7 linked regions of the Homo sapiens genome follow. The protein of the gene in region 3 purifies or fractionates together with the protein of the main gene of each other region. This does not show direct contact. Each region holds a gene or a part of one and is shown on either strand. Other genes may lie near its edges. The genes, in order: ALG14, RHOBTB3, TSPAN31, FAM162A, ZDHHC7, XPO5 and GPR89A.

Region 1 (4,489 bases), on a different chromosome or scaffold from region 3:
AATAATTTATGTATTTAATTAGTGCCTATGTTTTGTACAGAGCTGTGGTGTAAATACTATCAAAAGTGGAACAAGGATACAAAACTAGAATGAGGTACAGTCCCTGAAGACAAACATAAATAATCAGCAATAGCATTCATTATTCCTTCCACAGGTGTTTCTAAGAACAAGGACTGCAATTCGATGGTATATAACTCAGCACTAACCTTTGGTATGGGTGGCTATGTCACAGAGTTATTTAGAGAATTTGCTCAAGCTAAATGAAGACAAAGACTTTGTGGGTGGGGCAAAATCTAAGTTGGGAGTGAAGTAGAAGGAGGACAAATATTTAAGGCATTATCCTTTGGAACTCAGGTAAAATACCACTTTCTTAGAAAGGCCTTTCCTGATTTCCCTATCTAGAACACCAACTACCTTCTACTCCGTCATAGTACCCTGTTACCCCATTTATTTCCTTTTGAGGACATTTTTTCTTTTTTCTTTAAAAAAAAAAAAAAACACCTAACGTAGCTATTAAGGTAAGCCTGGCTGGAGCTAGAATGCCTTGGTTCAAATCTGAGCTTTGTCACTTTCTAGTTCTATAATCTTTAATAAATTACTTAACCTCTCTGTGGTGTAAATATTATAAAAAGTGGAACAAGGGCCGGACGTGTGGCTTACACCTGTAATTCCAGCACTTTGGGAGGCCAAGATGGGTGGATCACCTGAGGTTGGGAGTTCAAGATCAGCCTGGCCAACATGGTAAAACCCTGTCTCTACTAAAAATACAAAAATTAGCCAGGTGTGGTGGTGCATGCCTGTAATCCCAGCTACTCGGGAGGCTGAGGCACAAGAATCGCTTGAAGCCAGGAGGCAGAGGTTACAGTGAGCCAGTAAGGTGAGATTGCACCACTGCACTCCAGCCTGGGCGATGGAGCGAGACTGTCTCGAAAAAAAAAAAAAAAAAAAAAAAAGAAAGAAAAAAGTGAAACAAGTATACAGAACTAGCATGAGGGGAAGTCTCTGAAGACAAACATAAGTAATTAACAAAATCATTCATTTGTTCCTTCCACAGGTGTTTCCTCAGTTCCTCAATAAAACTTGCTCATCAAGCAAGAAATTTTTGTTGAAGAGCTGGCTTAGGTTGTAACTATGGGACTGAAAAGGAAAGGGTAGATATGAACTAAGTCAAAGGCAGAATCAATAGGTGATGACAAAGGAGAGGAACAGTAAAAGTAATTTCAAGGAGAGAAGAGGAAGACGAGAAAATTCTGGGGATAATGAAACAAAAAAGGCAACCAATTATAATTGGGTAAAGAAAGAGTGAAAAAGCAAAAATGATCCCAAAGTTTGTTGCTTGAGGGACATGATAGAAGCTAGTGGGCTAGCATTAGTTAACTACTCCAGTGCGAAAAGGAGGAGCTATGTCAAATTCATGTTTAAAATGAGTGGGCAGCAGGAACACAGTTGTAGATGATTTGTTTTTAGAGTGCTAGAGGGATGGGCCCTAACAAAAGAATGTTGAAGGCGGACAAGATTTGGGTGTCTGCTCATTGTGCGCCAGGGCTGAAGTCATGGGAAGAAACCCCGTGAGGCTCAAACGCTGACCTGTAGGGAGAAGGACAATTTTCTTTAACACTTACAATGATGTTCTTATTGTTGGTAAAAGGTGCTTAATACATTGCTATCAAATGCCTTTTGGGGGATGGGGCTTTTCAGAAAAAAAAAAAAGCACTCATTCAACCCAAGGAACTGTATAGTAAAGGGGTACGTTTCTCAATTTTAACTTACCATGTATCTTTGAAAGGTAGAATGATGTGTTCCAAGTTGCTTTTATAAGGGGAAGCTTGGGTCATCTCCTTCCTAGCAAGGACATCTTGCTATTCAACTCACAATTGTCACCACTCCTCTTGTTGACACGGTTTCATAGCACTCTTCGTTCCAGGCTAAAGTTTCCTGTCATGATTTTTGGGCATCCTTTTTGAAACAGTTAGACATTCTGACCTGGCAAGCTACTGAGACCTTTTAGGATAGCTGGACTGTAGATAGAAATCTTCCAGGGAAGTAGGTGTGGGCAGGATGTGTGGTTTCCCTGCCTCTCATTTGAAGACTGATTCAATTAATTTTTTCATGAACAGTCTCCTACAGTAAAAGTTGCATTCAGAGTGTTCTAAGAGAAACTGGAAGGGACAAGCTAGCTACTCATCTTCTTCAGTTTGAGTTGGGACTGGCGCACTATCTTTCTGAATGTCACAGAAATGCACAGCAGGGAAATTGTGCCACCAGCCCCCTCTGCTAATGGGACCTTGAGGACTCAAATTAGCCATAACAGTAACACACAGCAGAGCATGCACTTGTTTACCAGAGTAATCTGAATGATCAGGAAGATGCAATAACACATGTCTCAGCCTGGCTCTGAATGAGTACACAGCAGCCTGAACCTATGAAAGATATAACATTTCTAAACTTTTGGTGATATAACACATACACATTCTTTCTCTGACATTCCAGGCTAACCACTGTCTTAAGTTAAGGCTCTGCAAAACATCTGGGACATATGTTTCTGGAAAAAATTATAGCATCTTTTCTACAATTCTCTCTGGTCTGATCTTTGTTAAGCTCTGACCTGACAGAAGCCTCTGCAGCAGGATTACCTGTGGGGGCCCAGGGAAGCTGCCCCACAGCACAGAGAGGCATTCACTAAACGCAGTTCACTTTCCCTTACCATTCATTTACCTAGTGCCACTCAGGGAACAAAGTACAGAGCAGAGAAAGCCTTAAACAGCAATAAAATGCAGATGCTGTTGTCCCTGAAAAAATCACTTTCTTTCTAGAACAGTCAAGGCTTATTTCACCTCAGCCCCTGGTTGTATGATACTAATACGCTCTGATACTCCAGGGAAGCAACCAGTGACTGAGATTTGAGGATTAAAATCAAAGCACAATGAACTATCATTTGGCTGCCCCAGGCCCACTAAATCCAGACAGCAAAGTGTTCTCACCATTCTGAGACACCTTCGGCTACACATTTCTCCAGCCAAAAACCTAGGAAGATGTCCGGCTGACAGATGCGCCTGTTACATGATTCAGAGAAGACAGTTTTTTTGTTTTTTTTGCTTTTTTTTTTTAAAAAAAAAAAAAAGAAAAAAGGCTGGATCAGCCTCAGGATTTTAATCTTACATGATCGTGGATAATCATGTCTCTTTTCACAAAAATTCAATCACTTCACTAATCACTATTTATTAGATTTATATCATACTTATAAAGCAAAAGATTTAAGAGGAAAAAACCTATATATACTACAGGAGAGAATCTTCTCTTTTCTGTTTTTTATTTTGTTTTGTTTTTTTTTTTTTTGGCTGCTTTGTTAAAGAAGCAGAGGTTAGAGGGAAGGAAATGGAATTCCTGTTTTTGAGGAGCTCCTGGGCCAGGCACTGCACTAACTATTGTACTTCTATTCCAGTAGACATGGCACCACTAGAAACACAGTCTCAAGCAGGACCAGCGAAAGAATTCAGAGGGTCTAAAATATAAGTTCATTGTTTAAAAAAATATTCAGAAGTTCAAGAGAGTCACAGCAGAACATTAAACCAAGTGGAGGCCCTCTTCAGTGCAGAACTCTGTGTGACTGCACAGGCCACACACCCGTGAAACTGGCCCCACTAAGAAGTCAGGTTTACCTGAACTTGAATTCTGGCTTTGCTACTTACTACTCATGTGATCTTGGACAAGTCATCTGTAAAATGGGAATAATAACAGTCCCTACATCATTGAGTTTTGTTTTTTTTTTTTTTTTTTGAGACGAAGTTTCACTCTTGTCACCCAGGCTGGATGGAGTGCAATGGTGCAATCTCGGCTCACTGCAGCCTCTGCCTCCCGGGTTCAAGCGATTCTCCTGCCTCAGCCTCCCGAGTAGCTGGGATTACAGGCATGTGCCACCACGCCTGACTAATTTTTGTATTTTTAGTAGAGACAAGGTTTCACCATGTTGGTCAGGCTGGTGTCAAACTCCTGACCTCCAGTGATCCACCCGCCTTAGCCTCCCAAGGTGCTGGGATTACAGGTGTGAGCCGTCATGCCGGCCTAAACAAGAGATTTTAAAAGATACTCTGTATTAAGGCCAACTACTCAAAAAGCAAGACTGAAGTACAAAAAATGATACTGGTTTATGCTCAAGGTTCTGGAGGCTTGTGGAGTGCAAATTGTCATGAAGCCAATTTAATATAACTGCTTCCTTTATGCTGAAAGGATTCACTGGGGACATCACTGTTTCCATACAGGAAATAAAGCCTTTTGTATCTGAACCAAAACTCAGAAATACTTTTTTTCTCTCTTCTTTTACAATGCAGAATACTTTACAAAAAAAAAAAAAAAAAAAAAAAGCTGTAGGACAGGAAATATTACTAATCATACAAACTCTATATTTAGTTCTGTAAAAAAAATACTACTAAAACAGCCAGAAGAAAATTTGCAGGTAGTAATACATATTTTTATCTAGAAAAGAAATTTG
Region 2 (4,489 bases), on a different chromosome or scaffold from region 3:
TTTCTTAGATAGATGAGCAGTGTGGGTATTCTCTCACTTCTCTGTCCATTTTCCCCTAACCTCTCTCAGTTCTTTACCATGATTTACCTTCAGGTTTCCATCAAGGAGGACTCTTAAAATACAAGAGTTGAGGTGGAGATTCCGTATCTCTACTCCTGTTTAAACCCTATCTGTTCAAACTTTGGTGATTCCTATGAAGTTGTATTTATTCTTGTATTAAAAATTTTAATGCATCTTCTTATTTATAATCTATATGTTAATATTTGGCTATCTGAGGCACAAGTTGTATTTCTGAGAGTTTCCAGGTACTTTCTTGTGAGTTTATGGGTATTTTCTCCACGTTCTTCTTGTAGCTCTTAAGTTCTATTGCATTTGGTTTATGGTTTTTTAATGCCTTTTTAAAAATTCTGTTGCTTATTTCAGTTTGAACCCATTTTCTTACGTCAACACATATCCTTCTAAAACCTAGTTTTTACAGTGAGACATGTTCCATTCCTGTTACAGAGTCCCTAGACTATGAATCTGGGCCAGGTCTGTACATTAGCTAGAACTGCTCTGTTGAAATCTACTTCCCAAACCCCCACATGTGCTACCAATTCCTCATTCCTCAGTTCTTTCATTCCTGGAAGCGGAAAGCTTATTCAGATGTGTCATCCTACTGTATTTAAGATATTTTGGATAATATCTTAAATCTTGGTCAAAAATAAAATTCTTCATTTTTAAGCATGCTTTGTAGCCAGCTGTTTATTTCTGTGACCTCCCTTTTCCTTCTCAGTCACAGCCCTTAAGGCAATGTCCTAACCTCCTGGTGTTTTGTTATCTGCTCTGGGTTAATCACGTAACAGTAGTGGTGGCTTCTCTAAAAAGCTGAAGGTTCTTATTCTTTTCCCTTGAGATTGCACACATTCATCTGCTAAAAGATAAGGGGAGGAAAAAAACTGTTAAAATGTTATGTGGGATTAGATAAACTATAAATTTATTTCCAGTTCAAAAATTGATTTTATATAATGAATATAAGAGGGACCTGTGAATTTGTGTTTAAATACTCTCACACTATACAGCTTTAAAAAAAAAAAAAAGCATATCCTTGAGTTTTTTTATTAAGGTTTAGAGATTACTAATCTTTCTTCAATTTAGCATTACTTGTTGCTTATTTAATATTTTTGCATCTCCTTAGAAGAGCTATACTTAGCCAAAAGGTGGAAACAACACAAATGTCCATTGACAGGTGAAGAGATAAACAAAATGTGGTATATATGTACAATGGGATATTATTCAGCCTTAAGAAGGAGTGAAATTTTGATATCTGCTACAACATGGATGAAACTTGGAAAATATTACCCTAAATGAGCCAAACATAAAAGGACAAATATTTTAGAATTTCACTTATATGAGGTACCTAGAATAGTGAAATTCATAGAGACAGAAAGTAAAACAGTGGGTGCTAGGATCTGATAGGGATAGGGAGAAAACAGATTGTTTAATGGTACAGAGTTTCAGTTTGGGGTGATAGAAAAGGCCTGGAAATGGATAGTGGTGTTGGGTTGCCCCACCATGTGTATGCACTTATTAGTGACATTTAACTGTACACTTAAGGATTGTTAAAATGGTAAATTTTATGTTACACATATTGTACCACAATAATAATAATAAAAAAAAGAGTTCTATACTCATGTGCCAAAGTTGCCTGCCAGCAAGTTACTGTCATCTGCATTGGTGGTTGGATGGATCAGTGAGTGTCACTGGATGGGCACCAAGGTGATGATGTCAGTGGCCTGCTTGCTTGGAGTTTTCCCTCCATTAGCAGCTATTGGAACTCAGAATGAGGAGAATGGAGCTGGAAATCCTGCTCAGTTTACTGTACATCTCATTAAAAGCAAATATTTAGCCACAGCTTTCTCTTAGAAACATTTACACATTGAAACCCATGCCTTCGGCCGATGGTGTTTCCTCCTCAAAATATTTTTTGGCTTGCTCCTCAGGTGAACTTGTTTTAACATTGCTCACCATCATCTACTACACAGATACAGGTGCAGTTATTGAAGTCCGTGGCTTCAGATTAAAAGCTCAAATTAAATCTTCAAGAACCTCAGATGCAGCCATGCATTGCTTAAAGACGTTTGGCCACTCCGGCAGCCGTAGATTGTTATTCGCTGTTGGCCTGGCTTCTTCCGAGAATGTACTTTTAACGTTATTTGCTAATAGTGCTCCCTCATCCTGTCTGCTGTCACAGTATACTGAAAGCTGCATCAGGTAAAGGCACATTAAACATGAATATGGGCTCTCCGTGATTGCTCCCAGGCCGTTCTCTTGATCTTATCATACCAGTGGCCATTATGTGCAATATTATTTCACTTTTCATTTTTCTTGCAGTTTCACCACTCTGATTGCCTTTCAACCTGGCTACTTCATTTCATTGCTACTAACTACCTCATCTTCAGTCAAAAGCCTGAATTTCAGGATCTTTCAGGTAGATTGCTAATTTCTGTTTTGAAAAGAAAACTTTATGTTCTTTGTTCTTAGATTTGAGACATAAGTTGTAGAAGTAGTACTTTTAGCAAAATAAGAATAGTCAATGTAATAAATTTCTTGTAAATTATGCAGTGTGGTAATTGAGGAAACAATTTATAGTCACCTGTGTTACATAAGTGCCTTAACCTGTGTTACACAAGAAGTTTTCTAATGATTATTTTATAGCTCCATCCGTTTTTAAATGCATTTTCTTTCCCTGAAATAGATAAGGTGACAAAATGTGTCCTCAGGTGACATTTGGTTGTGAAAAGTGATATCTTAGTTCTAACTACCTAAGTCAGCAGCAAAGTTTAAACAGTACAGATTTAAAAATTTTTTATAAAGGAATTTAACTCTTGTTAACTATATTATATTTAGCTTTATTGTACTGGATATCTGTATTTACTGAGTATACCTATATGGGAGTCCCTTATATTACTTTGGAATAACAGTTTTTCATATATAAAAAATGTTGTGAAACTTACTGGGAGTGTATGTAATATGCTTTCTAAGGTAAATTATAAAAATTAAAACCAAAGTGTGAACTACTGAGTACTGCATAAAAAGAAAAAAATGAAAATATAATAGTTGTCAGAATAGACAGTTTAGATGCAGTGGTTTGCTCATGTTATTATCTAGCATAGACTCAAGGAAAATTTGAGCTAAAAAGAAAAGGAAGTGAAAGATTACCTGATCAAGGAGTTTCACAATCTGGACAAATAAATCTCCGTGGAGATAACTGAAGTGTCTTCTAGGGTGGGGGACAGAAAGTAGGGAGTGGGTGAGGAGAAGGAGAGAGAGAGGGAGTAAGGGAAAGGGAAAGAGAAGGCTAAAATTTACAGTTCTTGGACTCTTCCCTCCCTCCTTCAGTCATAGTAGTTCCACTTTATCTGTTTCATATCTTGAGTTCTACCTAAAATTTTACTTCGTAAAAAAGACTCTGCTGGTAAAAGATATAAAAATCATATGGTCAAGATGGTGATTCCACCTCGGTGTAATCCCAGCCAACTTGGGAGGCTGAGGCTGAAGGATCACTTGAACCCAGGAGTTTGAGTCCAGCCTGAGCAACATAACGAGACTTCTGTCTCTAAAAGAAAAAAGAGTAAAAATCTCTTGTTTTTATTCAGCTACTTGTGCAGTTAAAGAAAACCCAGGAACACACAATCCGTTTTTGGGAGATGTATTCAGCCAGTCAACAAACATTATATGTCTATTAGGAGCCTCCTTATATAAGTCAACTATTAGTACAGTAGAGAAGCATAATCACATCAAAACAAAACAACAGTTATTTATTAGCTATGTACTTTGTGCAAGGAAAAAACAGTCAGTTCATAAAGATAAGGCTTGTGTATGCTTGCTGTCAGAAGGAACATTCTTCTATAGTTATTTAAGTAGCTGCTTCTATAGTTATTTAAGAAGCTTGCTAAAAGTTAAATGAATTGCACTTTGGTCCTGGAGCCAGTTTCATTATGTTACCTGAGGTCACTCTTATTTGTAAGAGAAGAATAAGATTATTTTCTACTTACTATCTTGTATAGATATATGGTATATATGGAGTACTATTACAACCTTGGGAGAAGGATGGTCTATAAATCCTTTTAGTTATGAATTTTCATTATATGGTATTACCCAATTACCTATAAAGTATGTTATGACACCTGGCATGGTGCAAAGCAGGACTTCCAGTGCGATGTGAGGTGGCAGGCTAAGGAGGAAACGATGTGTCGATGTTGCCTTCTGTTCCTTTGATGGGAATTAAAAGGGAATCATGAGAACTCTCATTCTGCAGTGCCTCTTCCTGTCCAGGGTCCTGCTATGAGGTGTCATCCTCTTGGGCAGAGGAAAAAAGCGCCTTTTGGATAAGGGAGAATTTAATTGTCTAAATCAATAGTTACTAACTGGCCATCTATGGTTTAGGTGTAGCCTGCCAACGTGTTTTATTGGGACCCCACAGTTAAAAATATATAGTACTGGTATT
Region 3 (5,239 bases):
GTAATCCAGCTACTCGGGAGGCTGAGCCAGGCAGGAGAATTGTTTGAACCCGGGAGGTGAAGGTTGCAGTGAACTGAGATCGCGCCACTACACTCCAGCCTGGGCGACAGAGGGAGACTCTGTCTCAAAATAATAATAATGATAATAACTTAATTACCTTGTTTCAAGACCCAAACACCTCTCTCGCCCTGTCAAACATCTATTCTCCTGCATACCTTTTTGGTATTAATTTCTGTAAGAGTTTATATAAATACTGTGTAGTTAAAGATAAGGGAATTGAGGTTGGAATTGCCCACAGGAACCTGTAAAATGACCTGAAAAGTAATAACTAACATTGAGTGTTTACTATATGCCAGGTACTGTTCTAAGTATTCTACATATATTAACTCATTTAATTCTTACAACCCAAGAGGTAGGGTGTGTTGTTATTTATCCCCATTTTACAGATGAGGAAACACGCACAGACAGTTTCTAAGTGCCTGGCCAAAGGTTACGCAGCTAGGAAGTGGCAATCTGACTGTGGCAGTAAGTCTATAGAATCTAAGTACACACAAACTTAAATCATTCTGTTGAGTTGATTGGAGGGTTTTCTTTTTTGTTCCTACTGTTTCTTTCTCCTGGGGAAGAGAAGGATTATGCCTTTCCCTACCCCCGTGAGAAGGACGGTTTGTCAAAGCACTTACTAGATAATAAAGTTGTTGATCAGCCTACCCCCAAGTGAAAAGGTGGAGGCTCCTTCCACTTATATTTATGTAAATGAGACTCTTCCTCTTGCCTGCCGTTTTTTTGCAAGCCCTAGATCAGGCGTGTACTCTGAAAATGCTGAGCACACCCCTCTGTGCACTTGTGGCAATGCCACATACAGGAATGCGCTGGCCTGAGGCCGCTATTTCCACACTGAATTTCTGGTATATTCACACCCCTTTAGGAGGAGATATGGAACAGGACATGGGTACTAGAGGACACACAAACGTGTGATGATTTGCTGGGTGTTGCTGTGTCCAACCCGCGGACTCTGCGGCCGGGCTAAATAAGCTCAATATGTGGCTCCTTTGGGTGTTCCCGAGCGTGACGCAATAACAAAACAATGGCGTCATCGTGAGGTCACTGCAGAACAGGGGGAAGGGGGTGGGGAAGGGCCCTCCTTCTACGGGCGGAGCCCTTTTTGCCCAGCTCTCAGAGCGGCCCCCTACCCGCCCCTCCCGCCGTCTCCCCTTCACCTAAGTTCCTCCAGAGCCGTCTCCCTGGGAATTAGCCCTCTCCTAACTCCGACCACAGAAAGCTCAGCTTTCAACCTAAGCTTTTGGAGTTTAGGCTGTAGTCCCTAAGAGAGTCTCTAGAAACCCTGCCCCTAGTTTTAAGTTTCGCCCAATGAAAAAACAAAAGGAGAGGGACAGAAGGCGGGTCGGTGACGTAATGCGGGTTGATTGGCATGCAGGCCTTGGACGTCCAGGATTAGCCACGCATTTCGCCAATCCAGAGGCAGGGGAGGGACGGTGCAGGCGCAGAGTATTGGGTTTGGCTGGCCTCGATTTAAAGAGACAGAAGCTGTCGGGGTCCTGGAAGACGGTCCCCAATACCCTCCCCCCAAGTCCTTGGGACCACTTGGGTCCCCAGAGCTGGGGAGATGGTTTGTGGCGGCTTTGCCTGCTCCAAGAATGCGCTTTGCGCTCTCAACGTGGTCTACATGGTGAGGTTTTGGAGGTGGGGGAAGCTTCAAGGCGGAAAGGCCCCGTGGGGAGAATCTCTAGGGTACTTCCGGTGGGGAGAGGGGTGTATGGGGGTTCCGGGAAGATTCCCAGGAACTTCCGGCGACGAGGGAATTCCTGGGGACTTCCGTGGGAGAGAGGAGACTTCCGGTTGATTAAGGGGGTTTGTCTGAGGGTGGGGGAATGAACTGAAGGCCGTGGGCGTAAGTTCCATACCTCCTTCCTGTGAACCTCAGTTTCTTCCAAACTGGAAGTGATAGGATGATCCTGAGGGTTCATCTTTTGCATTCATACTACCATCCCTGCCACCCCCTCCCCGCCATCCTAGCCATTCTAACCTTTGGGAGTGCCTAGGGATGCTCCCGGTGCGGATAGCACCATCCCCAGCTCCCATTCACACACTATTCCATTATTCCTTCCCCCTGCCCCGCTCCCAAGTCCTCTTGTATGGCCTTGGGCTGTGCCGCATGCTAGAATTGTTGAGATGTATCCTGCTCTTTCTTCGTAGCTGGTGAGCTTGTTGCTCATTGGAGTGGCTGCTTGGGGCAAGGGCCTGGGTCTGGTGTCCAGCATCCACATCATCGGCGGAGTCATTGCTGTGGGAGTCTTCCTTCTCCTTATTGCAGTGGCTGGACTGGTGGGTGCTGTCAACCACCACCAAGTCCTGCTGTTCTTTGTATCCTGACCTGAAGTGATGGGGGCAACCGGGGGCTTGGGAGGGCTGTCATCTAAGGAAGATGTTAGAAGGGTAGGGGACCTCAGGGATCTTGGACACGTCTCCTTGCCCTGCCCTGTCCCATAATCTACGAAACAAGAGCTGATTTTATTGCTTTCAATTTGACATGGTGGTGTAAGTTCTATGAACAGATGAGACCAGACAGTTATTATAGATGAAACATAAAGGAATCTAGGACTTTTTTCCATAACCTTTCCTCTCAGTACATGATCATCCTTGGTTTGGTCTTCATCTTCCAATTTGTAATCTCTTGCTCATGTCTGGCTATTAACCGAAGCAAACAGGTAAGACAGTACCCTTTCAAGTACTTACTTGCTTTTTAAAATTTTCCTCTTAACCTCGAACTCCTTCCTTAGTCTGGCCCCAACTACCCAAAGATCATCCTTAGGTGCACTGCTTCTGGCCTCTTGGGCTATTTGCTTCCTCTGGGATGTCTGGTTAATTTTCCATGAGGATGATCTAGAGAACCTCAAAAGGTAGATATTTATCGTGTCTATAATTGTTGCACACCGTTATGCTTCTGTTTGACTTCCTTTGCTGGGCTAGGGAAATTGAGGCACTTGAACTGATAACAGGATGTAGGGAGACTTAATTTCCCTCTACCCATATCTTTCAGACAGATGTCATCAATGCTTCTTGGTGGGTCATGAGCAACAAGACTCGGGATGAACTGGAAAGAAGTTTTGATTGTTGTGGCTTATTCAACCTCACAACCCTGTATCAACAAGATTATGATTTCTGCACTGCAGTGAGTGTGTTGGGGGTGGTGCAGCAGCCAGGGGAGGTAGGAAACTGGGTAAGGACAATGCCCAAGTTGGCAAATTTAGTTTGAATGTCATTGTTTCTCTCTCTACAAGCCCTCTTGTATTGGGGCTGTGTTGGTGGGAGGTGGGGGTGGATAGAGGCTGGGGAATTAGCCAAGTAGGATTTTAGTTTGTAGGACACTGGTCAGATAACAGTAAAGTTTCTAGGGACATTCGGCATAGGTATTAGTCACTAGCAACTTTACATTCACAACTTTGCATTCTTCACGTTTTATCCTCAGATCTGCAAGAGCCAGAGCCCCACATGCCAGATGTGTGGAGAAAAGTTTCTTAAGCATTCAGACGAAGCCCTGAAAATCCTAGGGGGTGTTGGACTCTTCTTTAGCTTTACAGAGGTAACATTCTCCAGTTCCCTCACACACATCCTTTTTGAGACTGAGAATTAATTGATACTTATCTCTCTCCCTTTGTTCCTACAGATCCTTGGTGTTTGGCTAGCAATGAGATTTCGGAATCAGAAGGATCCTAGAGCCAACCCCAGTGCCTTTCTATGAGACTTTGGATCCTTCTGACTTTTCTTCTGCTCTCTCTAAGCTTTCTCTTCCTCCCTTAGGGAATATCTAGGGTCTGTAACCGTTTTGGTTTGAGAAAAAGGAAAGGCCCCTTGTCACATCCTCTAAAATTGATGGAATAGCAAGACTTTATGCCTTGACATATTTTAGTGGGAGCCAGACTATAAGGAATAAAAGGAAAAACTTTCTTCCTCTCTCTCCAAGAGGATATGGGAAGCTTCTGTGAGTGCATAGGATGGGGGCTGGAGTCATTCTTAGCTGTTTCCCTTCCTCTGTCCATATACTGGATCACCTCAACATACCCTGGTGTGGCTCTAAGGGTAAATCAGGGATAGGGCCAAGGAGAAAACAACCAAGAACTCTTTCCTGTAATAAGCAGGATCCAGTTTGAGAAAGTTTAGCGAATATAAAAGTAAAAGCCATTTAAAAATCTATATTCTTTTTTTTTTTTTGACACAGAGTCTTGCTCTGTTGCCCAGGCTGGAGTGCAATGGCATGATCTCGGCTCACCGCAACCTCTGCCTCCCGGGTTCAAGCGATCCTCCTGCCTCAGTCTCCCAAGTAGCTGGGATTACAGGTGTGCACCACCACGCCTGACTAATTTTGTATTTTTAGTAGAGACAGGGTTTCACCATGTTAGTCAGGCTGGTCTCGAACTCCTGACCTCAGGTGATCCACCCGCGTTGGCCTCCCAACGTGCTGGGATTATAGGCGTGAGCCACCACGCCCCGCCTAAAATCCATATTCAAAGAAGCAATTTCAGTTCCTTTCTAAGCTTTGTCAGTCAAGGGGCTCCACTGACTTCCTAGGCCCTGTAATTTAACCAGTCTTTAAGGTTTTGCAGGAAAGTCCCTTCTTCCAAGTGGTTTTTCCAAATCGCACAATGGCAAAGCCAAACAGAGGAAGAAACATTAAAAAAAAAAAAAAGACCATTATTTCTTTGTTTTGTTTTTCCTGTATAAAAAAGGACCCCAAATATAAAGGTAGGGAAAGGGACAAGAGGGAACATACCCCTTAGTGTAGAGAAATGGGAAGGAGAAGGAGAAGCCTCAAAAGGAGAGGTGGGAGGGGAATGTCATTAAGGCAGCAAAGTAATCTCTGTAGAAAGATGGAGGAGGACCCTCCATAGCCTCAGAGATAAAGGCAAAGATTGCCCTCTCAGTGTCCAGAAGGGAAATGGCAGCTTTTCTTCCTTCCATGGCAGCCACTCCATTGCTCACTCCGGATTACCTTCATCCTTATGTAGATAAGAGTGCTGCAGAGCTCGAAAGGCAGAGATTCGCTTGTGTGGGTTAAAAGTCAGCATTTCCTGAGGGGAGAGGCAAAGGTCAGAAAACCATGAAGAAAACAGACTTCTGCCCACCCACAACAATACCTGGGATGAGCTTTCTTCTTTTTTCTTTTTTTTTTTTTTTGAGACGGAGTCTCGCTCTATCACCCAGGCTGGAGTGCAATGGT
Region 4 (4,489 bases), on a different chromosome or scaffold from region 3:
CCTGGATGATGCTAGAAGAGATTCCAGGTGAATAATTTGCTTCTGGAGTATTTAAACTCAGCTAGTACAATCGAGTATACAAAAGCAATGCAAATTTCTCAGAATCCTAGAAGCTCACAGTCCTGTCCACATGTTTCTGCTGGTTTTAATCTGAGAACTATGCATGAGAGGTCAAAGAGGGAGACAAGAAAAAATGAAGTGGGGTGGGAACAGAGTTTTCAAGAGAACTTCACCCAGCTCAGCACATTTGCCCCTTCGTACTCCCATGAGGTCAGCCTAAAATGGTCAGTATTTCCATTTAACTGCAAGAATGAAGACAGCCAAAAGTACATTTCCTTTTACTCTGGAATTACTGAGGATAAGAAAGTCAGTTAAGAGTGCGTGTATAGAAGGACCTTTTTAGTATCTTAAAGTAGTTGTAAGACATCACTTTCCACATGGAAGCTGTGATATATAGAATTATACATGGTATTAAAAGAAGAATTTGACCAAAGCTGCTGAATATAAAAATAACTATGGCTTAATAGCAAGATAGTATAGTATGAGGTTTGGTAACCTGCAAACTTGGGTCTAGATTTTTATCTTGCCACTTGTTAGCTGTGTGAGTTTGGGAAAACTATTTACCTCTTAGGGTTATGGGGGTGATTAAGTGAGCTTAACAGTGCCTGTTACATAATAAGCACTCAATAAATGGGAGGAATTTTCCTATTACCTGAATTGGGTCTAGGTTCACACTGTGGCTCGTCATTAAGGAGATATGTGGCCTTGGGCAAGTTACTAAAGCTTTCTAAGCTATAGTTTTCCTCATCTATAAATCAGGTCCTAATAATACTTATCTTACAGTGTTTTTGTGAGGTTCAGATGAGATACCAGCTAGAAAAGTACCTGGAATGCAGTGAGTGTTCAATTAGTGATAGCTATTAATTATAATCTGTGCTAAAGATTTCTGGACTTGTATTCCTATGTACTGCTTAGGAGCTGTGGTCCTTAGACACATGGCCCTGTCTGGCTGAGCTTCAAATAAAGAACCCCGCTAAGAAAGCTCACCATGCTGAAGGCAGTTATGGTGAGGGTAAATACACTTGGGTACCAAGAGCACTCTGGAAATATGCAGTGGGTGATTAAATATGCCAGTGTCCTATTTCTTAATTTACATTATGACACCTGTCATCAGAAACACTTTTTAAATTTACATTACACAAAATGAATCTAGTCCTTCTTCACCACGCCAAAGTTAGGATTTGCTATCTATCCCCAAGGATGATATTCCAGGCTTGTTCCCAATATGTCTTATTTTTTTGCTTATCTTTTCTCATGTAATGTAGAAAGTAGCCTCCTCTTCTCAGAGGGTAAATACAAGGGTCAATCCCTGATTTACTCTAGGTTCTTGGTGGAGAACATACATACTGGATAGAGAAGAAACCCCTTCTCACCTTCTTGCCCTCAATAACCATGAAGATGCATCCTACCACCGTCAGGGCAATCATTAGATAGCTGATCTTCACTCGCATCTTGTTCTTTGCAGCATCAAGCATCTCCAACCTAGTAATACAATGAGATCATGAGAGAAAGTTATTAACTTTTCCCTTTCTGAAGTTGCTCAGGATAAAAGGCTGTGTATAAATTCAAAATGTAGTAGTGTCTATAAATATAAATAGGGAGACCTAGAGATCTCTTTAAAAAGGGCCTAGAGATCTCATAGGACTTTGGGGAGGATGAGGCATTTTTCGTAACTCATTTATGTATAAAATACAGGATAGCACACAATTAAGTACAAAAGAAGAAAACAAAAAGAGAAGTCAAGAACAAAGCCAAAAAAAAAAAATGGGCAAGGCATATTAATCTACACTTGCTATGGTGGACCCCAATTTTGGCTCTCAGGTTTCCAAGCAGCCTATAAATGCTAGAAGTGAAACAGTCATTTCTCCCTGAGGTTCTTAAGAAGACATTATGTGATGTAGTCATCGTCTGAAAACATCTCGACAACAGATACTACAATAAGCTTCATATGTTTCAACACAAAGCACAATTCAGAATGATCAAACATTGGAGAAAGTTAACCAATGTGCTCCATATACCCAGCTTTTTGCTCTCTGTCTTGAACCCAGAATAGATTTGAGAATATCTAAAATAGTAGGAAGATCCTTTAAGCAATGCTCCTCAATATTTATCTTTTTAAACAAATGTTTTGCTAAAATTGAGTGACAGTGAACTTGATATTGTGGTCTTTGGCAAGTGCCAAAGTGCAGCTCTTCTAACCTATCTACTGAATACAGACCCATGTGCCTTAAAAAAAAGTTGATGGTTGGTTCATCATTCTTGTGTGAAACCTAAGAGGCTTAATATAGAAGAGTCTAAAGGCCAATCTACCTTGGTGATTTTGCAAGTAGGCAGTGAGTCATGGTTCTATTTTTAATTTACTTTATTTAAAGAGATGGGGTCTCACCATGTTGCTGACTCAAAATCTTAGACTGAAGCGATCCTCCTGCCTCAGCCTCCTGAGCAGCCGGGGCTATAGGCATGCATTGCCACACCTGGTGGTCACGATTCTGTTACCTCGGTGTCTGGCAGAACCTCAAGGCAGGGGATGTGGAGCCCTTATGGGGCCCAGGATTAACTTATGGCCTTCTCAGTAGATGTGTAAATAGGAAGTGATTATCTCTAGATGATGGGATTGAAGTGCTTTCTTTCCCCTGAGATATTTAACATATATTACTTTTAAAATTGGGGAGGGGAGTACTTTAAAAATGCTTGGAAGGAGGCAAAGAGTCTGGGATGTTGCAGGTGGAAGGAGGAAGATGATGAAGCCATGTACAATGTGATGTAGGAGCTGGGACCTGTGAGGCAGCATGTGGACGGGGTTCTCCAGGCACTTAAGCTGGGCCTGCAGGCTGGCAGGAACCCAAGACAACTGCTAAGGACTGTCAAATTGGTCAGTTAGGAGCACCTGAGATTCCACTAACCACAAACTGACTTCCCATGTTGACGGTATTTTATGGGATTTGAAGTGCCATGATCCTCATGAAAAGTAATCCATTCCATAGGGAGTAATAGGAATGGGCAAGTTAAGCAGTGCCTGTTCAGAACTACCAGCACAAGGACAAATGGCTGCCCAGGCCCAGAAAAGACCCTTCCAGAGTGATTCGTGAGGTAGTATTTTGGGCCTGAGGGGATCTTGGAACCAACTATTAGGCAGACTGAGGAAGGTGTTCTATAGCAAAGCCTATACAGCATCTGTTAAGGCCATGGGTGTCTACCAGCTTATTTTCTGCTGGTATAGGAAGAATTAGGGCATAGGCAAGAACCTGATGTCACTGTTATTTCCAGTATTCTCTTATTTCCCAGAAGAATACATGACTTGAGCTAAGAAAAACCAGGGCTTTCCTGCTGAAATAATTCTAGTTAAAGTAATGTGCTATCAATTTGACTGGCAGAAGCAGAAAAGCTCTATTAAAGCTGTTGTAAACAGAAAGTAAATACTACATATTTCCCTGGGAAAGAAATCCTGAATGAGCTCAGATCTTTTTCAATCATGACTTGAAACCAGAGACCAGAAGATCCAGGAATAGTTTCTTGCTGACAGGGAACTTCCACGAGCTTTGTCTGAAGTCCCTGTCCCTGAATAGGATGATGCCTCACAGAGGAGATGACATCTATTTCTCAGAATCTCTTTTTAGCCAAGATGCCAGCCAGTCAGGGTCTTTAACATGAGGCTAGGGCACTGGTTCTCAACCAGGGGAGATTCCCACCCCGCTCGTGCCCCTTGGACATTTGGCAGTGTCTGGAGACATTTCTGGTTGTCAGCACTGCCGCAATGCTACGGGCATGTAGGGGGCAGAAGCCGGGGATGCTGCCAAACATCTTCCAACAAATAGGACACCCCCCTGCCACAAAGCATTATCAAGCCCCAAATATCAATAGTACTGAGTTGAGAAACTGGGTTGGAGGAACCTGCACTCATCATCTACAAACTCTGAAAAAGTTCCATGATCCCAGCCAAGATCCCTTCCCTTAGGTTTAAGGAAGTTGGTGACAGGAAGCACTCTTTCCTGAATTCCAGAATATTGCAATTAAATACTTTTACACCTAAGGTTGAGTACTTAAGTGGATTTGGGGGAATACAGTCATTGTCAATGGTACTTAATTTATATACCTAGATTAAAAACAAACTTTAAAAAAGTCACACTTCTGTAGCCAGGGGATGAAATCAAATAATCAATTGACTTCAGAGTACCTGACAGTTCTTCACCAGTCACTGTGTAACTTAACAATGATAAGACACAGGTTTTCTAGCATTGTTTATATTCCAAGTACTTACCAAAGATAAAACATTTGGAAAAGTGAAAAATGTTTTCAAATTTGGTTGAAAAGTTTTAAACAGTTGGAACTCAGAGGCATTGCTTTTCCCTTAGATCAGTGAGAAATGAAAGCTGCTTGTAATACTAAATTCAGCACTCACGAGACAGTCTCTGGGATTTCATCTTCCTTT
Region 5 (3,500 bases), on a different chromosome or scaffold from region 3:
AAAGGGGAACCTTTGGGGTACGAGTAAGCATTCCTTGGAGGCCACCTCATCTGGCCTGCGTGCTCTAGTGAGGTCCCGCGCACATGTTTTCTGGACCTGAAGTTGTGACTTGCCTACAGGTGGGGTTTTTCTCTTCACCCCCGTCTCCCTCTTTCTCTATAACCCTTGTGCATTTCTCTTCTACTCCTTTTCTGCCAGGCTCCTTTGGGCCTCTGGCCCACTCCCCTGGCAGATCTTATCACACGCCCCTGTCGTTTGCCTGTGGACTTCCTTTCTACTTTTTCTTGTCTCCCTCAAGCACCCTCCTTCCCTTACTTATTCACTCAAGAAATGTTTGTGGAGTGCGTGGTGAACCCGGGAGTGCTGGGGATACTATGAGTAACATTCCATTGAGGTGATGGCAGAACAAGCAGCCAGGGAGAGGCTGCTAGGAAGGGAGGCCAGCAGGCTCCAGATGGAGTGGGGCTTTCTAGGCCATGGTGGTGGGGTGGAGTGGGGGGTGGGGTGGGATTTTATTCGCACTGAAAAGGCAGTGATTGCATGAGCTTAGGGAGGGGAGTGACATGATCTGATTTACGTCTGTGGAAGACCACTCTGGGTGCTGCATGGGGGACTGGACTGTTGGGTGAGCAGAGGCATGAGAGTAGAGAGAGGACTGGTCAGCAGGTGATCTAAGCACTCCCCAGGTGAGAGCTCATGGGACCTTGGTCTGGGCGGGTGAGGAGGTGGGAGAAGTGGTCGGATTTGGGGTAGGTTTAGAGGTGCACCCCATAGGACTTGCTGATCAGCTAGATGTGGAGAGGTGGGGAATGAGATACATGAAGGGCGGGGCCTTTTTTTTTGGGTGTGGTGTGCCGTTGATTGAGATGGGAAAGAGTGGGGTCGTGACTGAGTGGGGGAGGTTCTGCTTTGACCCTCCTGCCCTGGAGTTGTTAAGTGGCCAGTTGGATAGACGCCCTTAGGGATGCATCGTCAGCCTGAGAGTTTTCCAGATATCTTTTTTTGTTTAAACTTCGTGAAACTGAGGTTCCCCATTAGCTCCTTTGTGGAGAGCATGTAGATGAAGGGAAGGCCGAGGACTAAGCCCGGGTGCTCCCGGCGTTTACATGGGTGGAGGAGAAGTATCCAGTCAGAGACCGGGTGTGGCTAGGGGGAAGGGAAGTCAGTGTTGTCCCCCAGGCCCCTCACTCCTGAGACTGGTGTTCCCTCTCCCACTTCCACGGTTCATTGTGTGCTGTGTGTGTTCCCCCACTTTGCCATGTTTTTGATCTGCAGTGTTCTGATCCTACTGTAGAGTGATTAAGTATTTTAATATGAAATGCCCTTCTAGAAAGGTCAGGCAATGTCACTATTCACCGTATGACTTACGTGCCAGCATATCATTGAGATCTGGCTTGAGTTGGGTTAATATTCTGGTGTGGATTTTTTTTTTCCTTAAAAGTAATATTCTGATCTTTGGATTCAGTAATTTGAGTAGAAAATCATGGTTTCTTAGAGCATCATTTCCTATGGTAGGATTTGAAAGGACAAACTGAATATTTCATGATTGCCAGTTGATGGCAAGAGCACTTAGGAGCGCAGTCGCCATCAGCTCACTGCAGTGGGTCAGCTGAGTGCTGCGCTCCTTTTGTGAGTTGAGGGAGGACGTGAGCTCCCTCTGTAGCCTTCCCCACCTTGACTCAGGTTCCCTGACTCATCCGGGCTGGTGGCATACCTGGGATGTGGCCCCGTTTGCACGGCCCATAGGAACCACTGCCTCCGGATCTTACAGCGCCCCCCTGGACCCAGCCTCAGTCCTGCCCCTCACTTCCTCTGAGTCTGTTTCTCAGGCTCCTCGGGCCCTCAGTGCCCTGAGTTTCGGTCACTTGGCTTACCAGGCCTCTCCTCCTGCCCCCTGGACTCTGAGGTTGGCCTCTCCCGCTTGCATCTTGGTCTTGCCTTCGTTACTCTGCTTTTCTAGCCCATCATCCTGGCTAATCTCCAGCCCTGGGTAAGTTTATGGTGCTGGGCTGGGCTTTTGGATAAAAGGACCAGCCATTCCCATCCTCTATGAGACACTTAAGGTGTCAGCATTGTCTGGGCCCTGCAGGGTGACAGTTCAGGCCCCTCTTGGCCGCCGCCTCTCCACCCCATTTCCATTTTGCGGTCTCCATAGGCCCTCCCAGCGCCGCAGCCCCGCTCCTCCTCTCTGCTGAGACACTCAGCACTCGTCTTCCTGAGTGAACTGCTTTCACTTCTCTTCATGCCCGGGTTTCCCCTTTCTTCCTCCAGGGAGGAAGGATCATTCCGCTTTGTCGACCATCCCCCCACTCCACCCACGCTTTCTCCTATCGATAAAATTCACACTTGATTCAGATTTCCTCAGCTTTTCCTTAATGTCCTTTCTCTGTCCCAGGATCCCACCCAGGATCACACAGGACATGAGTGGGCACATCTCGTCAGCCCCTCTTGGCTGTGGTGCTTTCTCAGGCGTTCCTTGTTTGGATGACTGGCACTTGGGAGCAGTGCTGTGGGTCAGGGATTTTTTTGTAGGATGCTCTTCTCTTGGGACTTGTTTGATATTTTCCTTATGACTAGACTTGGGTGATGCAGTTAGAGGGCCTGTCTCGCCACAGCCTGTCAAGGCTGTGTTCTGTCCACAGGACTCATTGCTATGGATGTGGCCTTGAACACCTGGCTGACTGAGGTGGTGTTTGCCAAGTTTCTCCTCAGTAAAGTTATTTTCCTCCTTTCCGTACTCCACTCGTTAGAAACTGTCCCTGTGAACGGCCATACTTGAGGGGTGGGGAGCAGCGTCCTCCCTGCTGGAGGAGGAGGAGCCACAGGCATTCCTCGGACTCGTGGCGCTGGGTATTTGTCTATTTTCTGTTTATTCAGCCACTGCTTTATATCAGTCTGGACTCGTGCATGTTTACTTGATGCTTCGGGTTATAAAGCAATACTATTTTATTTTCCTGGAAAAAGCTTTGGCCATTGGGAGCTCTTTTACTTGGTTCCTATATCCCTTTCATGAGCCCACCTGTCCCCATGATTGTGTGTGTGTATTGTGAACACTTCATTATTCTCTGGCAATACAAGATGCTCCAAGCTCATCTTGTATATATATTTATTTTTTTTGCCTCAGTCCTGGTTCCTTTTATTTATTAGAGAATGGTATTAAAAACCAAGATCTGTGGTGGCTCACACCTATAATCCCAGCACTTTGGCCGACATGGGAAGATCGCTTGAGTCCAGGAATTCAAGAGCAGCCTGGGCAACTAGCAAGATCCCATCTTGAATATTAAACAACAACAACAAACCAAGATCTGGGAATTAGGTGTGCTGGTGGCTGTTGGTGTGTTGCTTCTAGGCCGTCTCAGCTGACAGAGCAAGTAAATATATGTGTGGATGCTAACCCATGTGTGTATACATATCTGTAGATATTTCCATATGCAACTGCTTGTATCTTCCTTAAACCAAAAACTTAGGTCATTCTAGCTTCCTCCTCTTGCTTACCTGGA
Region 6 (4,489 bases), on a different chromosome or scaffold from region 3:
CCTTGTTTCTACTAAAAATACAAAAATTAGCTGGGTGTGGTGGCGTGCACTTGTAGTCCCAGCTACATGGGCTCAGGAGGCTGAGGCAGGAGAACTGCTTGAACCTGGGAAGCAGAGGTTGCAGTGAGCCGAGATCATGCCATTGCATTCCAGCCTGGGCGACAGAGTGAGACTCCGTCTCAAAAAAAAAAAAAAAAAATATATATATATATATATATTTAATAGAGATGGGGTTTCGCCATGTTGCCTAGGCTAGTCTCAGACTCCTAGACTCAAGTAGTCCACCCATCTCAGCCTCCCAGAGTGCTGGGACAGGTGTGAGCCACCGCACCCGGCCCTGGTTGGAGTTTCTTAAGATGAAATTCTTTTAGTCCCTATTCTCTCAGCCCTCGAAAGGAAACACTAACTTTTCTTCTTTCAGTTTTGTGAGGAGTTTAAAGAAAAGTGTCCTATCTGTGTCCCCTGTGGCTTGAGGTTGGCTGAGAAAACACAAGTTGCCATCGTCAGACATTTTGGCCTTCAGATCCTGGAACACGTTGTCAAGTAAGGAGCTCTTGGACATTACCACTGAAGTCTGAGAGAACAGATCTTTATATCTTATATAACCTATAGAGATGCTGTTTAGGTGAGTAGAGAAGAGCAATCTCCAAGAAGAGAGGAATGATCCCCTAGATGTTATCAGAACCTCACAGGAGCTCTCATTCAAGATTTAACCTTTCTTTTCTTCAGTTTCTTCATCCATGTAAAGTGTGTGGTACATATTACCCATTCAACAAATATTACCTGCCATTTAGCCAATACTTACTGAGCTCTGACTATATGTCATTAGCCCTCGAAGCCTTTTTAGAGTAATGCAATGTATAGGTCAATGAATCTCTGATTAGGCACTGTGGCTTTCTTTTTTCTCTCTGTCTTTCTGAGTTTGTGTGCCTTCTCTGGGTGGTACATCCAAAGCAGGATTGTATGAGAATAACTGAAAACCCATCCTAACTTGATTGTCCTACCCTCAACACCTATCAGAAGAGGTAGCCTTTAAGACTTAGCCATAGTTTTTCCAGAATTGTTTTGTAAGCCAGCACAGAAAATGACTGATGTCAAAACTGCATTTTCTGAAAAGCAAGTACATTGTTGCAGTTGACCTAGATGTATATTCACTTTTGGCCCATCAATAAAATCATGAGGCAAAGCTGACGTGTGGTACAAATCTTGTGCGGATTCCAGTTAATGGACCACTGCATATATAAAACCTTTTCCCAAGAATTTTTGTGTTAGTATTTTGGTTAAATGTAGATCATTTTTGCCCATTCATTGACAGGTACAAAATCAAAAGTATAATTTCTTAATGAAATCTCCAGTGTAATCAAATGTAGAAATCCATGCTATTCTCTTGTAAAGACAAGACTTCTAAAGTGGTTCTATTGACTTTATGCATTTTGGTGGTCAGGTTTCGGTGGAACGGCATGTCTCGATTGGAGAAGGTGTATCTGAAGAACAGTGTCATGGAGCTGATTGCAAATGTAAGGAATGGGTGGTTGGGAGACATGTTTCCAAGGTAGTTTAGGCAAAGCGTGACTTCTTCAATAGGGAGTTTGTGTAAAAATTCACTGCTTCTAAATAGGTCAGACAGCACAAGAAATCATAATTTAGGCCAGGCACAGTGACTCACACCTGTAATTCTAGCGCTTTGGGAAGCCAAGGTAAGAGGATCACCTGCATCTAAGAATTCGAGAGCAGCTTGGGCAATGCAGTGAGACCCCATCTCTACCAAAAATGCAAAAATTAGCTGAGCGTGGTGGCGCATGCCTGTGGCCCAGCTACTCAGGAGGCTGAGGTGGGAGGATTTTCTGAGCCCAGGAGGTCCAGGCTGCAGTGAGCTGTGATGGTGCCATGGCACTCCAGCCTGTGCAACAGAGCAAGACCCTATCTCAAAAACAAAACAAAACAAAAGCAGAAAGCATAATTCAGCATATGTCTCTTACTAGGTTTAATTAATCATGCTTATGTATTGACTTCTATTTTTTAAATTATAAAGACAGGGCAGAGGGGATTAAATATTTTCAACAAATCAATAAGATTCTTAGATCTAAATTAGATTGAAACACTATTTTCTTTTATTCCAAACAACTACTATGTGATACTAATGATGAAAAACATGCAGAATTTTAAGTATGCAGAATGAATTTGTTTCAAGTATTAGAATATGACTTTTTTTTTTTTTTGAGACAGAGTCTCTGTTGCTCCGGCTGGATTGCATTAGCATGATCATAGCTCACTGCAGCCTCGAACTCCTGGGCTCAAGTGATCTTCTCGCCTTAGCCTCCCAAGTAGCTGGGATTATAGGCATGTGGTACCATGCCCAGCTAATTTTGTTTTTGGTTTTTAGAGAGACAGGGTCTCACTGTGTTTCCCAGGCTAGTCTGGTCTCAAACCCCTGGCCTCAAGCAATCCTCCCACCTTGGCTTTCCAAAATGCTGAGATTACAGGTGTGATGACTGGATGACTGTCTCTTTAAACACAAAACAGAATATGACTTTAAACATGTTCAAAATTGTAGCCTTTTTTCTTTCTTGGTTTTTTTTAAATAACAGACATGAGAGATGGGATCTTCTAATACTTCTGCGTCTTCTAGTGTTAGAACTATTGGTAAAATATTCATTTGCCCCTTCATACCCTTCCATTTTACCAGCTACTCACTATACTCCTTATTTCTATACTCTTCCTCCCTGGCCTTCTGCAAACTGAAACAATCAATATGAGAATCTTTTCATTTTGTAAAGAATAATGATGTCATCCTAGCTCTCGATATGACAGCCTTTTAGGTGATGCAACCCTCACTTAAGCTTTAAGCGGAAGAGTGATTAGCAAGAATGCAGGACAAGTGACTCAGGCTGAAGAACAGGTTCATTTGTTCTGTTTGGTTTAAAAGTAGGCCTGCTGATAAATTTTTTACAACTCTACAGCCCAGCTTTTTTCTGGAAGTCTGGAATCCAGTCTTGCATATCTCTTAATATCTCTTGTTCTTTTTCAGGGAACATTGAACATTTTGGAAGAGGAGAACCATATTAAAGATGCTCTGTCTCGAATTGTAGTGGAAATGATCAAGCGAGAGTGGCCACAGCATTGGCCTGACATGCTAATAGAATTGGACACTCTTTCCAAACAAGGGGTATGAAACACAGCTATATCAGTTTGGTATACTTTTCCTTGGAACAAACTTCAGGGTTTGTTGTTTGATTTTGTTTGTGGGTTTTTTTTTTTGGCAACAGAAAATAGCCTTTGGATATACATAAAATGAAAAGATATTTTAGTTTTTAACTAGCTTATTTCTATTGGTGTAGGAAACACAGACAGAATTGGTGATGTTTATCCTTTTGCGACTGGCAGAGGATGTAGTGACTTTTCAGACACTTCCCCCTCAAAGAAGAAGGGACATCCAGCAAACATTAACCCAGAACATGGAAAGGATCTTCAGTTTTCTGCTTAACACACTTCAAGAAAATGTAAACAAGTATCAGCAAGTGGTAAGGGATACCCCTACCTATAACATTTCTATTTTCCAATATGAGTGTTTTTGATTAATCTTACAGTAAGGAACTAGGGTGTCTAGGTCAGCAAAATGAAATCCTATTTTATAAGCAAAAAAATAAAAAACTAGGAAATGACAGAAAAACTGGAGCTCATTTTCTTTCTTTTTTTTTTTTTTTTTTTTTTGAGACGGAGGCTCGCTCTGTCACCTAGGCTGGAGTGCAGTGGTGTGATCCCGGCTCACTGCAACCTCTGCCTCCCAGGTTCAAGCGATTCTCCTGCCTCAACCTCCCAAGTAGCTGGGACTACAGGCGCCCGCCACCAGGCCCGGCTGATTTTTTGTATTTCTAGTAGAGACGGGGTTTCACTATGTTAGCCAGGAAGGTCTTGATCTCCTGACCTCATGATCCGCCCGCCTCCCAAAGTGCTGGGATTATAGGTGTGAGCCACGGCACCTGGCCTTTTTTAAAAAAAAAAAAAAAAAAAAAAAAAAAGATAGGGATCTCGGCTTACTGCAGCCTCCACCTCCTGGGATTACAGGCATGTGCCACCACACCTGGCTAATTTTTGTATTTTTAGTAGAGATGGAGTTTCGCTGTGTTAGCAAGGCTAGTCTCAAACTCCTGACCTCAGGTGGTCTACCCACCTTGCTCTCCCAAAGTGCTGAGATTATAGGTGTGAGCCACCGAGCCCAGCCCTAGGTGTTATTCTTAATTTTATTTTCAGAAGTTCTTTAGGAAAATACTAATTTTTTTTTTTTTTTTGGAGAGGGAGTCTCACTCTGTCACCCATGCTGGAGTGCAGTGGCACAATCTCGGCTCACTGCAACCTCCGCCTCCTGGGTTCAAGCGATTCTCCTGCCTCAGCCTCCCGGGTAGCTGAGATTACCGGTGCCTGCCACCATGCCCGTCTAATTTTTGTATTTTAGTAGAGATGGTGTTTCACCATGTTGGTCAGGCTGGTC
Region 7 (4,489 bases), on a different chromosome or scaffold from region 3:
TGTCACCTTTTCTTCACCTCCAGTTCATTCCTTAACTGACTGCAATCCAGCTTTCTTCCCATTCTTCTTTATTGAATGAAATTACTTTCACTAGTAATTGTAATGGCAATAGGTAATATTCACCAAGCACCTGCTATGACTAGGCACTGTTCTAAGCATTTCACATGTTCTAATTCATTTAACCCTCATAACAATCCTATGAGGTAGATATTATTGAAAACCTAATTTTACAGATGAAGAAATGGAGGCACAGAGAGGTTAAGTAACTTAGTTAAGGCCACACAGATAAAAGGGGCAGAGTCAGGATTCAAGTGCAGTCTAGCTCCAGAGTCTGGGCTTTAACCACTACGACACTATGGTAATAAGTTTTCCCCTGGTTGCAAAATTCAACATTTTCCAATCCTTGTTTCATTGGCTCTTTTATGACATTGAATCATTTTTGTTTAAAATTATTTTATCTTCTTGGCTTCCACAACACCATTTCCCTAGGTTTTCCCTTTTACTTCTCTAATTGCTTTTTCTTGGTCACTTCTTGCTCTGTCTGGACCAGAGTTCTCACTTTCATTTCAGTATACACATTTTTTGCTTAGGTGATCTCACCAATTTCCCCAGCTTCACCTAATGGCATTTAGTTGATGATTTCTAGTTGTTTAGATTCCTGGAGTCATCTCTATGAGGACTGATACATGTACACCTTTTCCCTAAGCTCCTGATTTGTACATCCAATTGCTTATTTAACATCACCTGGATATGCATAAGTAACTCAAATTCAGCATATACCAAACTAAAATTATCTTTCCCCTCAACTTGTTCCTTCCTCTGCATTACCTGTCTTAGAAAATGACATAATCACCCTAACAATAAAATCTATACACTATACGATTACTTTCCATTCTATCTCTTGCCTTTCCTTGAATACACCAAGGTCTTTCTGCCTCAGGGCTTTACATGATGTCTCCTGTGCCTTCTTGCTGGGTCTTCCTTTGGTCTTGTCCTTTAAATCTCAGCTTAAATATCCCTGTCTCAGAAAGGGTGGATCTAACTGTTTGCACTACATTATCGGCATTTTTCTCTATCACAGCAACCTGTTCACTCCTTGATGACAATGATCACAATTGGCAATTATTTATTTATATATTTACCTCTTTATTGTCTAGTTCCACCCACAAGACTATCAATTTCAGGGGGGCAGAAACCAAGTTTGTTTCGTTTGTGGTTTATTTCCAGTGCTTAATTTATATAAAGTGGATGCTCAATAAATATTTGTGTAATGCTGAATGAACGAATAAATCCTCACCTAAATTCTGTTATTCTACTTGCCGTATACCTCTTGAATTTGCAACCCCTTTACAAGAAGACATCATTTCTTATTGATCTTTGTTTTCCTTACTGCTTGGCACATATGAGGTGTTCAACAAATGTTTGTTGACTATAATATCACTCAGTAACATAAAAAATCCAAGAGATTAATATGGGCTATTAAATTTGAAAAACTGAAAAAATTCCCCCTCTACCTTTATTCCTTTTAACATGGTGTCTTTGTCCTTTTATTACATATCTTTTTCTGGTTTAAAGTACTTTGTAGATACTATTTACTTAATCTCAGCATTTCTATGAAGTAGGAGTCAGTCATCATTATCCCCATTTAGCAGTTAATACATGGAAAGTCAGATGAATAAGGAGACTAGCAGAAGATCATCTCACCTTTGCCACCTGCTCACACAGATTCCTTACAGTCTTTTGTAATCTCTCTTACTCTTTCCCACTAAGGACATTCCAAGGTTGGTTCAGACACCGCACAAGAAGTACTTTTACAGATTATCTTTTTTTCATTTTACATAAGGATTGGTCTTATCTTTTTTTTTTTTTTTGTAGAGTCTCGCTCTGTCGCCCAGGCTGGAGGGGAGTGGCACGATCTCGGCTCACTGCAACCTCAGCCTCCTGGGTTTAAGCAATTCTTGTGTCTCCGGCCTCCGGGGAGTAGCTGGGATTACAGGCATGCACCACCATGCCTGGCTAATTTTTCTATTTTTAGTACAGATGGGGTTTTGCCATGTTGGCCAGGCTGGTCTCTAACTCCTGGCCTCAAGTGATATCCCTGCCTTGGCCTCCCAAAGTGCTGGGATTATAGGGGTGAGCCAACCTGCCCAGCCCATTTTTTTGTGGTCACCACAGCAATAAACAACCATACTGGTTGTTGGGACAGTCCTGGGAAAGCTCTAAGAAGGCAGTGTAAGGCTGGTTGCTTCTCAGCTACTACCTAAACTTTTCTTCCTCCTTACTTATCTTAAAGGGTTAAATAAATTAAGATACCTGAACATTCAGGCATAAAACTGTAATGCCTATTGGAGTACAATGGAAAGAATAAAACTGAAACTATCTCCCTAGCTTTCTCCCTCAGTGTCCTTTTCAGGGTAATCCCATAGAATTTAGAAAAAGGGGTGGATGAAAGGACAATAGATACAATGGCCTTCATCTTCCCTCTGGTGCGGCCTGGCTGCACTGGTCATGTGAGCTGAATGCACACAGGAGAAAGCTGGAGAAAGGTGTCAGAGTCGGGTCTTTGTAGTGCATGTGAGACTGTATTTGCCCTGTCAGCAGCCCTGGGGGCCTTTTCTAACTCTTCTCTCTGACTTCTACCGTCACAGATAAATGTGTCTGTCTGTGGGTTTCTTTGAAATAGGTTTATATGAGAACTATACTACCAGGACTCTTTAGTGCAAGTCGTTCCCTTTGTTGACCATTGACATAGGCATGCTGATCACATTAGCATTTCCTAAATTCCTATCCAGAGTGTTAAAGTAGTAAACTCATCTACCACTTTGGAGAGACTCAATTTTCTTCCATCCACTGATTCAAAGAACACGTATTAAACACTTGTTATGTGTCAGTTTCCACACTAGGCACTGGGGATACAAAGACAAATAACATGGAGTTTTCTGACCTCAGGGAGCCCATAGGTTGATGAGGAAGTTAGAAAAGGAAACATGAAATTTTAAGTTTTATAGATGATATAGATACCTTGAGATGGTAGCAATTAATATCTCCTAATGATGGCCAGGAAAATCTTCCTAAAGGAATTGACAAGAGTTGAATCTAGAAAGGATAAATAGGCATTTTCTAGGTAGACAGGGTTGGTGAAGGATTGTCCAGGCTGATAGAACAGCTCTAGAAACTTGAGGCTGGGTGTGGTGGCTCATACTTGTAATCCCAGCACTTTGGGAAGCTGAGGTGGGTTGATCCCCTGAGCTCAGGAGTTCGAGACCATCCTGAGCAACGTGGAGAAACCCCATCTCTATGAAAAAATACCAAAATTAGCCGGGTATGGTGGCATGCGCCCATAGTCCCCGTTACTCAGGAGGCTGAGGTAGGAGGATCACTTGAGCCTGGGAGTCGGAGGTTGCAGTGAGCCAAGATCATGCCACTGCACTCCAGCCTGGGTGAGAGTGAGACCTGTCTCAAAAAGAAAAAAAAAAAGAAACTTGAAATAATTTCACAGGACTGGAGAATGCAACATGTATAGAGAGCAGCAGCCAGGTCATGAAAGGTCTCATACGCCACCTAAGAGTTTGAATGCTTTTGGCAGGCTGGTGTTATGTTAAGTTTTCCGGCCTTTAACGTTATTTGAAATTTTGAAAGTTATTCTTATTTTAAAAATACACAACTATTTATGGTATTGCATATGCTTTTCAAAACTGCATATCTCCTCTGATCTTACTGCAGGAGAGTCTCATAACCTCTCTCCCGAAATTCCTGCTATAGGCAATCAGTATACATGGAAGGGTGTGTGGGAGGTATGGCAGATTCTATAATAGACACTGGCTCATTCAACATTAATTCCAATATCCTTTTCCAGCATTTGTTTTGGTACTACAGAGTTTAGAAAGCCAAAAGCCCCTTCTCAGACTTCCTTGAGGCCAAGGTTTTAAATATTACCTAGGTTTCACCAAAAAACCCGGCCCATGTGAGGCCTCAGATGCAGAAATGAACAATGTAGGGGTGGTGATAGCACTTAGGAGCTCAAACAGCTGGGACTGAGGTCCCTGATGTCATAGACCCTGAGTGGCAGGTGATAACTTCAGTGAGGTTTTCTAGTTTAGTATTGTGGCATAGTTGGGTATTTCTCTTCACTATATAGCAGTTAAGCTTTGCATCCCTACTTTCCTAGAAAGTCTATAAATTGCCTGATACTGTATAATTAATCACTTTCTGCTTTAAATTAGTTACAGTAGATTCTGTTTTCTGCAATAAGAAGCCTAGTAATAGGTACGGCAGGATGGTGAATAAAGAGGTATATATATATAGATTTTTTTAAAAAGGTTCCAGCATGAAACCTGTAGTATATTTATTACAGATGGGCTCTCTAATCTTTTTAGATAGATTCTCTAATCTTTTTAGATAGATTCATACATACTTCTGAAATAGTTCTGGAAGGACTTGTTAGCTGAGGTACTTTTGTTCATTGTTTTTAGCTTAAAAATTAGGGCTC

What was found.
Region 1: the proteins of TSPAN31 (region 3) and ALG14 purify together in Homo sapiens (affinity purification with mass spectrometry; one large-scale study listed by BioGRID and IntAct). This does not show direct contact.
Region 2: the proteins of TSPAN31 (region 3) and RHOBTB3 purify together in Homo sapiens (affinity purification with mass spectrometry; one large-scale study listed by BioGRID and IntAct). This does not show direct contact.
Region 4: the proteins of TSPAN31 (region 3) and FAM162A purify together in Homo sapiens (affinity purification with mass spectrometry; one large-scale study listed by BioGRID and IntAct). This does not show direct contact.
Region 5: the proteins of TSPAN31 (region 3) and ZDHHC7 purify together in Homo sapiens (affinity purification with mass spectrometry; one large-scale study listed by BioGRID and IntAct). This does not show direct contact.
Region 6: the proteins of TSPAN31 (region 3) and XPO5 purify together in Homo sapiens (affinity purification with mass spectrometry; one large-scale study listed by BioGRID and IntAct). This does not show direct contact.
Region 7: the proteins of TSPAN31 (region 3) and GPR89A purify together in Homo sapiens (affinity purification with mass spectrometry, with the first as the bait; one large-scale study listed by BioGRID). This does not show direct contact.

Annotation. Positions count from the first base shown.
Region 1 is NC_000001.11:94,978,362-94,982,850, forward strand, and holds part of ALG14 (UDP-N-acetylglucosamine transferase subunit ALG14), read right to left. Parts: 3' UTR 1-4,489. UniProt on the Homo sapiens protein: Part of the UDP-N-acetylglucosamine transferase complex that operates in the biosynthetic pathway of dolichol-linked oligosaccharides, the glycan precursors employed in protein asparagine (N)-glycosylation.
Region 2 is NC_000005.10:95,786,389-95,790,877, forward strand, and holds part of RHOBTB3 (rho-related BTB domain-containing protein 3), read left to right. Parts: intron 1-2,373; coding exon 2,374-2,470; intron 2,471-4,489. UniProt on the Homo sapiens protein: Rab9-regulated ATPase required for endosome to Golgi transport. Involved in transport vesicle docking at the Golgi complex, possibly by participating in release M6PRBP1/TIP47 from vesicles to permit their efficient docking and fusion at the Golgi.
Region 3 is NC_000012.12:57,743,528-57,748,766, forward strand, and holds the start of TSPAN31 (tetraspanin-31), read left to right. Parts: upstream 1-1,511; 5' UTR 1,512-1,627; coding exon 1,628-1,690; exon of another isoform or gene 1,691-1,704; intron 1,705-1,895; exon of another isoform or gene 1,896-1,912; intron 1,913-2,217; coding exon 2,218-2,385; intron 2,386-2,648; coding exon 2,649-2,729; intron 2,730-3,061; coding exon 3,062-3,193; intron 3,194-3,490; coding exon 3,491-3,604; intron 3,605-3,688; coding exon 3,689-3,763; 3' UTR 3,764-4,997; coding exon of another isoform or gene 4,998-5,090; 3' UTR 5,091-5,239. Other genes in the region: CDK4 (cyclin-dependent kinase 4), read right to left, coding at 4,998-5,090.
Region 4 is NC_000003.12:122,404,334-122,408,822, reverse strand, and holds part of FAM162A (protein FAM162A), read right to left. Parts: coding exon 4,460-4,489; intron 1,543-4,459; coding exon 1,434-1,542; intron 1-1,433. UniProt on the Homo sapiens protein: Proposed to be involved in regulation of apoptosis; the exact mechanism may differ between cell types/tissues.
Region 5 is NC_000016.10:85,001,536-85,005,035, reverse strand, and holds part of ZDHHC7 (palmitoyltransferase ZDHHC7), read left to right. Parts: intron 1-452; exon of another isoform or gene 453-686; intron 687-1,792; exon of another isoform or gene 1,793-3,371; intron 3,372-3,500.
Region 6 is NC_000006.12:43,569,534-43,574,022, reverse strand, and holds part of XPO5 (exportin-5), read left to right. Parts: intron 1-421; coding exon 422-543; intron 544-1,444; coding exon 1,445-1,517; intron 1,518-3,028; coding exon 3,029-3,166; intron 3,167-3,338; coding exon 3,339-3,521; intron 3,522-4,489. UniProt on the Homo sapiens protein: Mediates the nuclear export of proteins bearing a double-stranded RNA binding domain (dsRBD) and double-stranded RNAs (cargos). XPO5 in the nucleus binds cooperatively to the RNA and to the GTPase Ran in its active GTP-bound form.
Region 7 is NC_000001.11:145,624,332-145,628,820, reverse strand, and holds part of GPR89A (Golgi pH regulator A), read right to left. Parts: intron 1-4,489. UniProt on the Homo sapiens protein: Voltage-gated channel that enables the transfer of anions such as iodide, chloride, bromide and fluoride which may function in counter-ion conductance and participates in Golgi acidification.